3 linked regions of the Homo sapiens genome follow. The protein of the gene in region 3 purifies or fractionates together with the protein of the main gene of each other region. This does not show direct contact. Each region holds a gene or a part of one and is shown on either strand. Other genes may lie near its edges.

What was found.
Region 1: the proteins of CNOT11 (region 3) and TNKS1BP1 purify together in Homo sapiens (affinity purification with mass spectrometry; 6 studies listed by BioGRID and IntAct, with this or other methods). This does not show direct contact.
Region 2: the proteins of CNOT11 (region 3) and BTG3 purify together in Homo sapiens (co-immunoprecipitation; 3 studies listed by BioGRID and IntAct, with this or other methods). This does not show direct contact.

Annotation. Positions count from the first base shown.
Region 1 is NC_000011.10:57,322,671-57,326,496, reverse strand, and holds the start of TNKS1BP1 (182 kDa tankyrase-1-binding protein), read left to right. Parts: upstream 1-1,544; 5' UTR 1,545-1,657; intron 1,658-3,826. Other genes in the region: FACT complex subunit SSRP1, read left to right, coding at 19-90.
Region 2 is NC_000021.9:17,599,256-17,602,981, reverse strand, and holds part of BTG3 (protein BTG3), read left to right. Parts: intron 1-3,726. UniProt on the Homo sapiens protein: Overexpression impairs serum-induced cell cycle progression from the G0/G1 to S phase.
Region 3 is NC_000002.12:101,266,386-101,269,885, forward strand, and holds part of CNOT11 (CCR4-NOT transcription complex subunit 11), read left to right. Parts: exon of another isoform or gene 1-291; coding exon 292-494; intron 495-2,654; coding exon 2,655-2,751; intron 2,752-2,830; coding exon 2,831-3,028; 3' UTR 3,029-3,500. UniProt on the Homo sapiens protein: Component of the CCR4-NOT complex which is one of the major cellular mRNA deadenylases and is linked to various cellular processes including bulk mRNA degradation, miRNA-mediated repression, translational repression during translational initiation and general transcription regulation.

The sequences.
Region 1 (3,826 bases), on a different chromosome or scaffold from region 3:
GACACCTTTGGTTTTCAGGACTCTGAAGAAGAAGAACTAGCCAGTACTCCCCCCAGCTCAGAGGACTCAGCGTCAGGATCCGATGAGTAGAAACGGAGGAAGGTTCTCTTTGCGCTTGCCTTCTCACACCCCCCGACTCCCCACCCATATTTTGGTACCAGTTTCTCCTCATGAAATGCAGTCCCTGGATTCTGTGCCATCTGAACATGCTCTCCTGTTGGTGTGTATGTCACTAGGGCAGTGGGGAGACGTCTTAACTCTGCTGCTTCCCAAGGATGGCTGTTTATAATTTGGGGAGAGATAGGGTGGGAGGCAGGGCAATGCAGGATCCAAATCCTCATCTTACTTTCCCGACCTTAAGGATGTAGCTGCTGCTTGTCCTGTTCAAGTTGCTGGAGCAGGGGTCATGTGAGGCCAGGCCTGTAGCTCCTACCTGGGGCCTATTTCTACTTTCATTTTGTATTTCTGGTCTGTGAAAATGATTTAATAAAGGGAACTGACTTTGGAAACCATGTCCTCATGCTTTCTTTGTAGCCTTGGTGTGTTGCTCCCACTTTTATTGGTGGTGTTTACTGCTCTGGTCAGACTGGGCAGGGCCTTCCTGGCCAGCCGGGAAGCAAGTCTCGAGGTACATCCTGTTCTGTTCCCGGCTGGACGAGCATTGGTTTTCACCCGCCTCTGCCCGGATGGGCCACCTGAGAGTCTAGAAATGAGAGCTGATCTGATTAGGAAGTTTCTCCCAGTTACACTCCATTAGCCAACCAAGCTAGGGGGAGGCAGCTCTTGGCTGCATCCTTACCTATGAGTCAAGGGTCTTCCAAGGCTTTCGATAATGAAATCAGGATTGACTGTCCTTCCCGCAGCCGGGGGAGTGGAAACCTGAGCCTGGAGAGTCGGGGAGGATGAGCGTGTGCGTAGAGTGGTGGTGGTTGCAGCCTGGTGGTGGTGCAACAAAGTACGGAGTTATATGTGAAGCTTTTGTTCTTACGGGAAGAAGGGGGTATACAAACTTCAGTGTAGGGAGGAACCCATGTCTGAGAAGGGGCCTAAAAGGAGATAAAGGTCACTAATGAGGAATGCAGAGCTGCCAGACTTCTTCACGGTGGCTCTAAATCTGAATTGACACAGGAGGGTGGCCACGTTGCGCGCGTTCTCAGCACTCAGGTGGTTGTATCAGGAAGCCGCTTCAGTCAGCCGGCGGCTACCTTCTTGCCGGCGTAGCTCGATGATACTGTGCTCTGTGCAGGCGGCGGAGCCCGGGAGGGGCCGCCAAGGCAGTTTCTCTAGGCAGTCGTCTCGGTGGCCATTTTACCCGAGCGCTCCCGGCTGAATTGCGTCAGTTTCGCCCCGGTCTGAGACTGGGGCGGGCCCCTCATCTGCAAGCCTCATGAATAATTGAGTGCTGGGCCGCGCCTGTTTGCCGACGGTGGGACGAATTCTGCACGGGCTTCCCACTCCCGGGTTCCAACCGGCTCATGCATATTCATGAAGCGCCCTGGGGGCGTGGACCTGGGCGGAGTTGGGGCGGGGCCCCGCCGGGGCTCGCAGTGGCTTCGTCCCGCGGTGACGGCGGCGGCGGCGGCGGTAGCAGCGGCGGCGGCGGCGGGGACTGGCATCGGGGCCCCGAGCCGAGCGGAGCCGGACCCCGGGCGAGCGCGTGAGTGCGCGGGGGCGGTCGGGCGAAGGAGGGGGCGGGGTCCGGGATGGGGCGGGGGAGGGGCATGGAAGGAGTGGGTGCTTTCCAGCCGACACCTCGGGTTGAGGTGGTGGTGGTCGGGGGGTCACCAGGAAAGTTTGCAGGGGCCGAGGGCGCTGGGGACGCTGGAGGCCCGGGGGAAGGTGGCGCGTGTGCGCGGAGGCGGAGGGCGCATGGCTTGGAGCTCGTGCTGGCAGAGCCAGAAGAAAGGGGGGAGGGGGCGAGGGCTTGGGGCGGGGCCGGGGGCGGGCAGAGCCGCTGGAGGGACCCCTGCCTCCCCTTCCTCCGGGCCGCGCTAGCCCCCTCCCCCGGCTCCTTCGGCACGCCCCCAGCCACCCCAGTCCGCCCCCACCTGATCGACGTCTGCAGCCCACCGTCTGTTCGCCGGCTGCTTCACAGCCCGCTCACAGGTCCTCCGCTTCTGCCGCCACCGCAGCCCCCTCCTCCTCCTCCTCTTCGGCTGCCGCCGTCCCTTCTGTGTCCAGAGCTCCCCACTGGGCCCCTCCAGACAGCCCATTGCCCGGGGCTGTTCCATCTTCCCGTTGGCCCTCCCTCTTTCCAGCAGTTTACGTGCTGTCCCTGCCGACCTCTCTAGCCTCGGATCCGGCTGGAGATCCTGGGGTCCATAGGGGCGACCCCGCCTGCGCCGAGTCCCCTCCGGGGCTGGAGCTGCCCAGCCCTTCTGGAGGCCTTATCTGCCAGGGGTCAGCTCGTTTCTACCCTGCTACCCTCTACCCCCTGGTCTCTTGAGGGTGGGGAGTGCTCAGAACCGCTGCGAATCGCAGCTTCTGGCCACAGCCTTGGTGGCCTTGGTCACCTGGGGCCCCTGGCTGGGGTCTCTGAGTTGCTGTGGCCACCTCCGCACCTGGGGACTCTGAGCCCGCCTTCATTGCTGCAGCCCCTCATACCGCAGAGGGGCCCATCAGAACCCCAGGTGAAAGGATTTTTTTGGTTCTGAGCCAATTAATTTCCATCTCCAACCACCCACACTATGTTCCTAGTAATAATGTTCAAGGACAAGGAAACAATCTTGTGTTTTAATTTTATTTTTTCTATCATGTGCCCCTCCCCCCACCACACTTGGCCTGGCTCTGCACAGTTATTCACCCACCCACAGTGGGCAGTCTTCCGTGGTGGTTAACTGACCAATGGGTTGACAGTACTGGGTTTCTCTACTGTCTTCATACCCTCTCCCATCTTTGAAACACCTGGGGCAGGGTCAGCGTTAGGGGAGGGGTGTTGGATTTTGCAGAGGATGAGCACTGGGGGTCCCTTTTAAGGATTTGGTGCTGTCTTCCCAGACCAGCTGGAGTGGGTGACTTTAAGTGAGGCAATGCCCCTTGCAGGTTGGAGAAGTTTGGGTTGTCCTCAGGGCTCTGCATACCAGGTGAGGGAAACTTCCGCCTTGCATGAGAGGTGCAGGGCCCTATCCCCCAGGGTCTCCATGTTTTTGTGGGTGGGAGAGTGCTTCAGGAGTCAGGATGGGAACTGAGGAGGTGGTTGGAGTATCTGAAGAACAGGTGACAGGACTAGGGCCTGGGAGAGTGAAGGAATGGTCTGGGAATGCTGGTAGCCTGGGGTCAGGGAAGAGGAGGAGGTGGTTATCAGGGATGTTAGCTCATTGGTGACACTGAATGGAATCACAGTAATAATAGGCAACATTTGTTGAACACTTATTATGTGCTAGGCATTGTGCTAAGCCTATTTCATGTACTATTTCATGTAAGCCCCCTCAGGGTCTCAATAATCCCATTTTTCAGTTGGAGAAACTGAGGCTTGGAGAAGTCACAGGGCTAGAAAGTGGTAGACCCACCCAGCACTGAATCTTGGTATATCAGATCCTGAAGCTCATGTGACAGGCTTCTACCACCAGGCTGTGCCTCTTGGTTTAATTTCTTCTGTCCCCCTCAGAACTCCTTAAAGCCAACCCTAGGCTGGTGAGTGAAGCCCACATAACCCCTTTTCATACATAGGCTGTGGCTGCTCCACCCTGACTGTCGTGGAAGGTGGAGCCCCAGGGAATTTTCCCCCAAGTCACTCCACCCCCCGGATGTTCTCAAGCCCTGTCCCGTTCTCCCAGCCCAGGCCTGGGCCGGCTCCTCCTTCCTCTTGGCTAGGCCCTGGAAATCC
Region 2 (3,726 bases), on a different chromosome or scaffold from region 3:
AAAATCAGCACGATTATGTTATCACACAATCAAATAGTTTACGTTCAATATAATGATCCTAAACCATCAGGGGAAAGTTTTTATGTCCAAGGATGTTTAACAAGTTACATAATTATATAAACATTTTGGACCTATGTATTTAAAATGCTTAAAATAAGTCTCAGTACCTGAACATAAAAACTTTAGTTATACGGACATTCTACTTCAGTAGACATTTCATTACTTGATGATGCCTGGTAGGAAAAAACTGCTACTTTGCTTTCATCTTATTAATCTTAGAAAACCTTTTCATTCAGTAGGCTTCTAATTTATATGTAAATTTGCCAAAAATTGGCTCTGATGTGATTTTTTTCACAGCTAATAGAAATCACCTGCGAGTGTCAGGTGTTCATTCAATAACAGAACCCCAAAAAGAAAGACGTATTAATCGTTTAGTAGAGGTGGTTGATATAAGTTAACAGAAGAAAAAGACATTGAGAAATATTTTTTCACCAAAACTGGAAACATAGATATTTTGAAAATTAAAGCTGATCTAGCAAGTATACAATTGATCAAATATCTGAGAATCTTTAAAAATAATAACTCATTGGTATACTAGAGACTAAGATTGTAAAAAAAAATTGAGATGCACTGAGAACATTCTTCATAGTCTTCACTTACTCTGATAGAATAAAATGCTGCAAGAGTACAAAGAGTGCCATATAGTTAGAAAGGTTATCACTTCGTGATACAGAATAGAAAATAAATCTTGCCTATGATGAGAAGTTCTGAGAACAGATGCCAGCTTATCTACTCAACATATTTTACAACTTTTTTTTTTTTTGGTGATTTCTGCCATCCTTTTTTTCCCCCAATAGAGTGTTAAATACTATTGATTGTTTCTAAATAACTAAATTAGCCTTGATGTTTTATCAGTGATCATTGAAAAATGGAAAGTTTAAAAGTTGTCCAGGTGTCTACTAATTCTCCTAAGATATCGACTGCACATTGTAATGTTATAGTAGTATAGTCAGCAGCTTCTCTTACCATGAAGAGAGAGCCTTCATACCAAAATAGTACAAAGGGAAAAATGCAGAACCAAACTAGGTGTCAAAGAAATCTGAGTTAATAATGCTGATCCTTCAATCATTAGATATTTGCCCTTGGTTGAGGTTTCTGTTTACAAAGGCAGGAATTTTTCTCAAATTTCTTGCCTTTCCATTTTTGAATTTTGATTCCATTAATGGGCAAAACTGAAGATAGGCCTAAGTCATTGTTATATTAGTGTCATTAACACATGAATTAACCCTTGATTGTCTTGAAATTTGTTGAGTCTTCCAACTGTGGAGGGGACATGGAGTAAATGTGTATTGCTAAAACCTTATGCTAAGTAAACTTGAAATTAGAGAACACAAATTTTATGTTGTGAGGAACTCAATTGTTTAGGAATTTATTTTTTGTTTGTTTTGTTTTGTTTTAGAGAGAGGGTCTTGCTGTGTTGTCCAGGCTGGAATGCGGTGGCATGATCATAGCTCACTATAATTGTGAACTCCTGGGCTCAAGCAATCTTCCTGCCTTGACCTTCCAAAGTACTAGAATTATAGATGTAAGCTACCATGTCCAGCTTCTGTTTAGGTATTTTATACTACGAAGAGTCACCAGCCGTAGATCAACCACTATCTAGCCAGCTCCAGCTTCCTCGTCCAGCATATAGGAAACTAAGGCCTAGGGAAATTAAGTGACTTGCCTCTGGTGACCAAGCTAGTCAGTGGCAGAGCCAGAATGAGAAACTAGTCTAATGCCCTTTCTACCATCCCGTAGCAACTTTTTTTTTTTTTTTGAGACGGAGTCTCACTCTGTCGCCCAGGCTGGAGTGCAGTGGTGCGATCTCAGCTCACTGCAACCTCTGCCTCCCAGGTTCAAGCAATTCTCCTGCCTCAGCCTCCCGAGTAGCTGGGATTACAGGCGCACACCACCATGCCCGGCTAATTTTTTGTATTTTTAGTAGAGACAGGGTTTCACCATGTTGGCCAGGCTGGCCTCGAACGCCTGACCTCATGATCCACCCGCCTTGGCCTCCCAAAGTGCTGGGATTACAGGCATGAGCCACCGCGCCCAGCCCCTGTAGCAACTTTTATGAGGTAAACTAAAAAAGAATACAAAAGCGAAGTTATGTACTATATTTAAGTAGTATTTATAGTTTCATTTGGCCTATAGGAATGGAAGACAGCATAGCTATCTGAAGAAATAGAACTCATCTATGTGTGATCTCTGAGACTGCTAGATTTCCACATACATTTTCTTTTCTGTTTTTTTAATTTTTTGTTCTTGTTTTTTTGTTTTTTTGAGAGACAGGGTCTCACCATGTTACCCAGACTGGTCTCAAATTCCTGGGCTCAAGCAGTCTGCCCACCTAGGCCTCCTGAAGTGCTGGAATTACAGGTGTAAGCCACTGCACCCAGCCTCATGTACATTTTCAAAGGCTTTATAGCAGTTAAGCCTTTTACTTTATAATAGATAACCATTCTGATTCAGAAATAATTTGAGACGAGTGCTATCTTGAAATGAATTAACTTCAGCTAACTATTGAATCAAAAGCTTGACATTATTTCTACTTAGAGTTACTTATTTTTATCTTTTTTCAAACTTAGAATCACTTTAATTACATTTCTAACTGTATGTGTTTTGTAAGAACCGCTTAACAATATCCTTTGTCCTGATGCTAGAAATTGTTTGATAGTGTTGACACTGTGCAATCTATTTAAATAGATTTGTGGATTTCTCCTATGTCCACTGAATAAAAACTCTTGGTTTTACTTGAGTTTATTACACTATTTTCCTACAGTTCAGAATTTTTTTTTAAGTAACCAGCAGCATATGTTACATATTTTGACAACTTAAAAAAAATCAAAAATCTTCAAAAATGTTTTGGAAGAATAACAAGATTTTTTCATCTTACCTTAAAAAAAATTAAGATGAGAGGTGAGTAGTTATCCTAGGAAACTCTGAAGTAAGCAATATAATTTAAGCAAAACCTCTATATTCTTCAACAACTATCTTTTTTCTTTAATCTCAATAACTGCCTCAGTTCTCATTTTTGTGAGTATAAATAACAGGCCCCCTTTTTTATTTAATTGGGGTTAAAGTCAATTTTATAGGAAATTTCTAGTTGATCTGTGACTTGAATTACTAGCATATATGTTACATTTATAAGTACAGCTGGGGCTGGGCGTGATGGCTCACGCCTATAAACCCAGCACTTTGGGAGGCCGAGGCGGGTGGATCACCTGAGGTCAGGAGTTCAAGACCAGCCTGGCCAGCATGGTGAAACCTCATCTCTACTAAAAATACAAAAATTAGCTGGGCGTGGTGGTGGGCACCTGTAATCCCAGCTACTTAGGAGGCTGAGGCAGGAGAATCACTTGAACACCTGGGAGGTGGAGATTGTAGTGGGCCGAGATTGCACCCATTGCACTCCAGCCTGGGCAACAGAGTGAGACTCCGTCTCAAAAAAAAAAAAAAAAAAATCAGCCAGTGGCGCATGCCTGTAATTCTAGCACTTTGGGTAGCTGAAGTGGGTGGATCTCTTGAGCCTAGGAGTTTGGGACCAGCCTCAGCAACATGGTGAAACCCTGTCTCTAAAAATGTATATAAATTAGCTGAGCATGGTGGTACACTCCTGTAGTCCCAGCCTCTTGGGAGGTTTGAAGTTGGAGGATCGATCACCTGAGCCCAGGAGGTAGAGTC
Region 3 (3,500 bases):
TATCTGACCAGACAGTGTGGAGTCTGGTTTGATGCCCAGGAATAGGAATCACTAGCATATTTATAAACTGTCTTAGATGTGTTTGCATTTTAGTTTGTTCAAAATTAAAATGTAAATTTAGAAATGTCAAGACATCATGGGTTTGAAGGAAGAAATTTATGAAGTTGGTTCAATGCAGATAGTTTTGTAGCTTTTTGTATAAAATGCTTATTTCATATACATGGGAAAAAAAATTGACTCAACACCCTTTCTCTCTCCCTCTCTCTCTCTTTAAAAATCTGGTGTATTTAGCTACTTGGTGAGTTGGAAAAAGACCCCAAACTTGTCTACCATATTGGCCTCACCCCAGCCAAACTTCCTGACCTTGTGGAAAACAACCCTTTAGTCGCTATAGAAATGTTGCTGAAATTAATGCAGTCAAGCCAGATCACTGAGTATTTCTCTGTCCTGGTCAATATGGACATGTCTTTACATTCAATGGAAGTTGTAAATCGGTAAGTTTCTAGATTTGATCAAATGTGTGGGGATAGATACAGATTAGATGGCCAGGAAAGAAAAATTGTAACAGATTTTTGTCTTGATATTATTGGCGTAAGATTAACTATTAAAGAAATAATGTAAGCCTTAGCATTCACTACATGTAAATTTAGCATGCGTTAATAAGAACTGAGGGTAGGATTTCAAACATATTTAGTGTTAGTAGAAGCATAAATGAAATTTAATTGCTGAAATTTATTTTATTTATTTATTTTTTTGAGAGGGAGTCTCACTCTGTTGCCCAGGCTAGAGTGCAGTGGCGTGATCTCAGCTCACTGCAACCTCCACCCGCTGGGTTCAAGCAATTCTCCTGCCTTAGCCGCCCTAGTAGCTGGCATTACAGGTGTGTGCTACCACACCCGACTAATTTTTGTATTTTTAGTAGAGACGGGGTTTCGCCATGTTGGTCAGGCGGGTCTCGAACTTCTGACCTCAAGTGATCTGCCCACCTCAGCCTCCCAAGTGCAAGGATTACAGGCATGAGCCAGTGTGCCAGCCAATTGCTGAAATTTATTTCCCTATACATAGTCCTGTCTTCTTTATCCCTATACAAATATAGATACTATTTTTTCTTAGTGACTAACAGCTGTAAGTGTGGAAAAATATGGACCTTAAGAGCTGAGAATCCTAGGAATGCTGTCCTAGCTTCCTCGTGCTCTTCTCCCAGCCTTTCTGACCCCCAGGCTCCTGACCCTGCCATCCTTGACTGTCAGGAAAACAGAACATCTTCCCTTCTTGATGTGTGCTGTACAGTGTTTGCATTTTAGAGTATTTTCCTTACAAATATCTTTTAGGTAAATTGTGAATTAGATGGGCTGGAGGGCTTAAGTTGTTTATGTGCAGGGTGGCCAGAGGTTCAGGTGTGCCTGAGAGTCCTGGTGGAGGCTTTGCATCCTGAGCTCCCTTTCACGTGGTATCCTGTTTTGGATGATAAATTATATGGTCCTCCTGTATGGGGAAATCCATTCTGAGTGCCAAGCAACTAAACTTCAGTACTGGAGAGCATAGTTTTTGAACACCTGTTTGTAAGTTGGGGCTTTTTGAAAAAATCTATGTGAAATTGAACTACAGAATGTGTCCTTTTTTCATCAACTATTGGGGGAAAAAAAGCCCAGCTGGAAGCTGAGGGAGTGGAAGTACGTGCATAGAAGGAGAGTGCGTTCTTTTAGCGGTAGCAGAGGGAGGAAATGTGAGGTTTCCAAATTAATTTTTAACTTTAACCGTGGTCACTGGCAAAACCGGCTAGCTGCTTGTTGAAAACGTGCTGCTGCACATCTCCCCCCTCTTTGTTCCAGTCTTTCCCCTACTGAGTGAAGACTCACTCTTTTCAGTGGCCCAGTTCTGTGCAGGTCCTCCGGATTGACCACGCTGAGTGTTCACTTCCCTTTCACCATATTCTTATAGCAGTTCTTGTCTCTACCAGACATTTGGCCCTGAGTCCAAGATGCAGAATCACTTACATCTTTTTATCAATGTGATTCTATCTGCTCAGTATCTTGGAATTCAAGGACAAGGTCCTGTTTGTTTTCCCCCGATACCTATCATAGTGCATCATCCTTAAACGTGAAACACGTTTTTTGGCGACGCACAAATCTCAAGAGACTGCAGCAGCTCATGACAGTGTCCTTGGAGCACTACATCCTCATGCCTTATTGAAAAAAGTTTTGAGGTCTGTTAAGTTTAGAAAAGGCAGCATATATTAATCTTCTTTTGGAAATTCATACTTTGAGTACGGAATTCCTGTTCCCACCCCACTCGTTTTTCTCATTAAAACATTCCATGTAATCCTTTGGAAAATACTGGCTTTGGCCTTTATTATGACTCTAAATTCCAATAACAGACCATGACTTAGGATTTAACCAAGAATACTCAGGGACAGGGCTCAAAAAAATAATTGCGATATGTAAATGTAAGTAGAGACATTTTAAACAGTGTTATTTATGAGTAAGTAGGTATGGCTCTTAGGTTAATTTGCCCAAGTATATTTAAAACTAGGGAATTGGATATGTCAGAAAATTCCACCAGATGACCAAAGCAAATTTTGTATTTTATGGTTAACAGTGTTTCTCAATGTTAGCAAATGAAATTAATGGGCCAAATTTTCTTTTACGAAACAGACTAACTACAGCTGTTGATCTACCTCCTGAATTTATTCACCTTTATATATCAAATTGCATCTCTACTTGTGAACAGATTAAGGATAAATATATGCAGGTAATATAAATTTTTGTAAATTTTATAAATGGCTGCCAGGAAAATGAGCAGACTAACATTTTTTTTTTTCCTTTTTCAGAATCGGTTGGTGCGTCTTGTGTGTGTGTTTCTCCAATCCTTGATCCGTAACAAAATTATTAATGTACAGGATTTGTTTATAGAAGTGCAGGCATTCTGTATTGAATTCAGTAGGATACGAGAAGCTGCTGGTCTTTTCCGGTTGTTGAAGACATTGGATACTGGGGAAACACCTTCTGAGACCAAAATGTCAAAATAATACCTCATCAGAACCATCCCATCCATTCACTGTTCAGCTGTACTGTGATTTAGTTTTTACACCGTTAAAACCCTGAGTGGATTGCTTGGTTTAATGCATATAAACAGTACTTTATCTACTTAAAGCAAAGTTTTGCTTTCTTGAATGACTTTTTCTGTGAGATGAATTTTTGATAAGAACTAGGGAAAACATGTCTTTTAGGTGTCTTGCTGATGACTATCCATAGGAGGAATGGCTATCCCAAAAAAAGTTCCGCAAAAAAGTAGATGAGTTTCTTTTTTTTTTAAGCACTAAAGAACAAAATGCATTTTTCATTAATACAGGCTTCTGATGAACCAGGAATCCTGTTTTCGTAAAGTTCCAATGTTGATGAGAGTAAATTCTTAAGCATTTGTCCTAGAGGTGAAAGCAGCTGAATGTTTCTGAACCATCAAGAGGCAAACAAACAGGAGTTTGTTTCTTGAACCTGCTT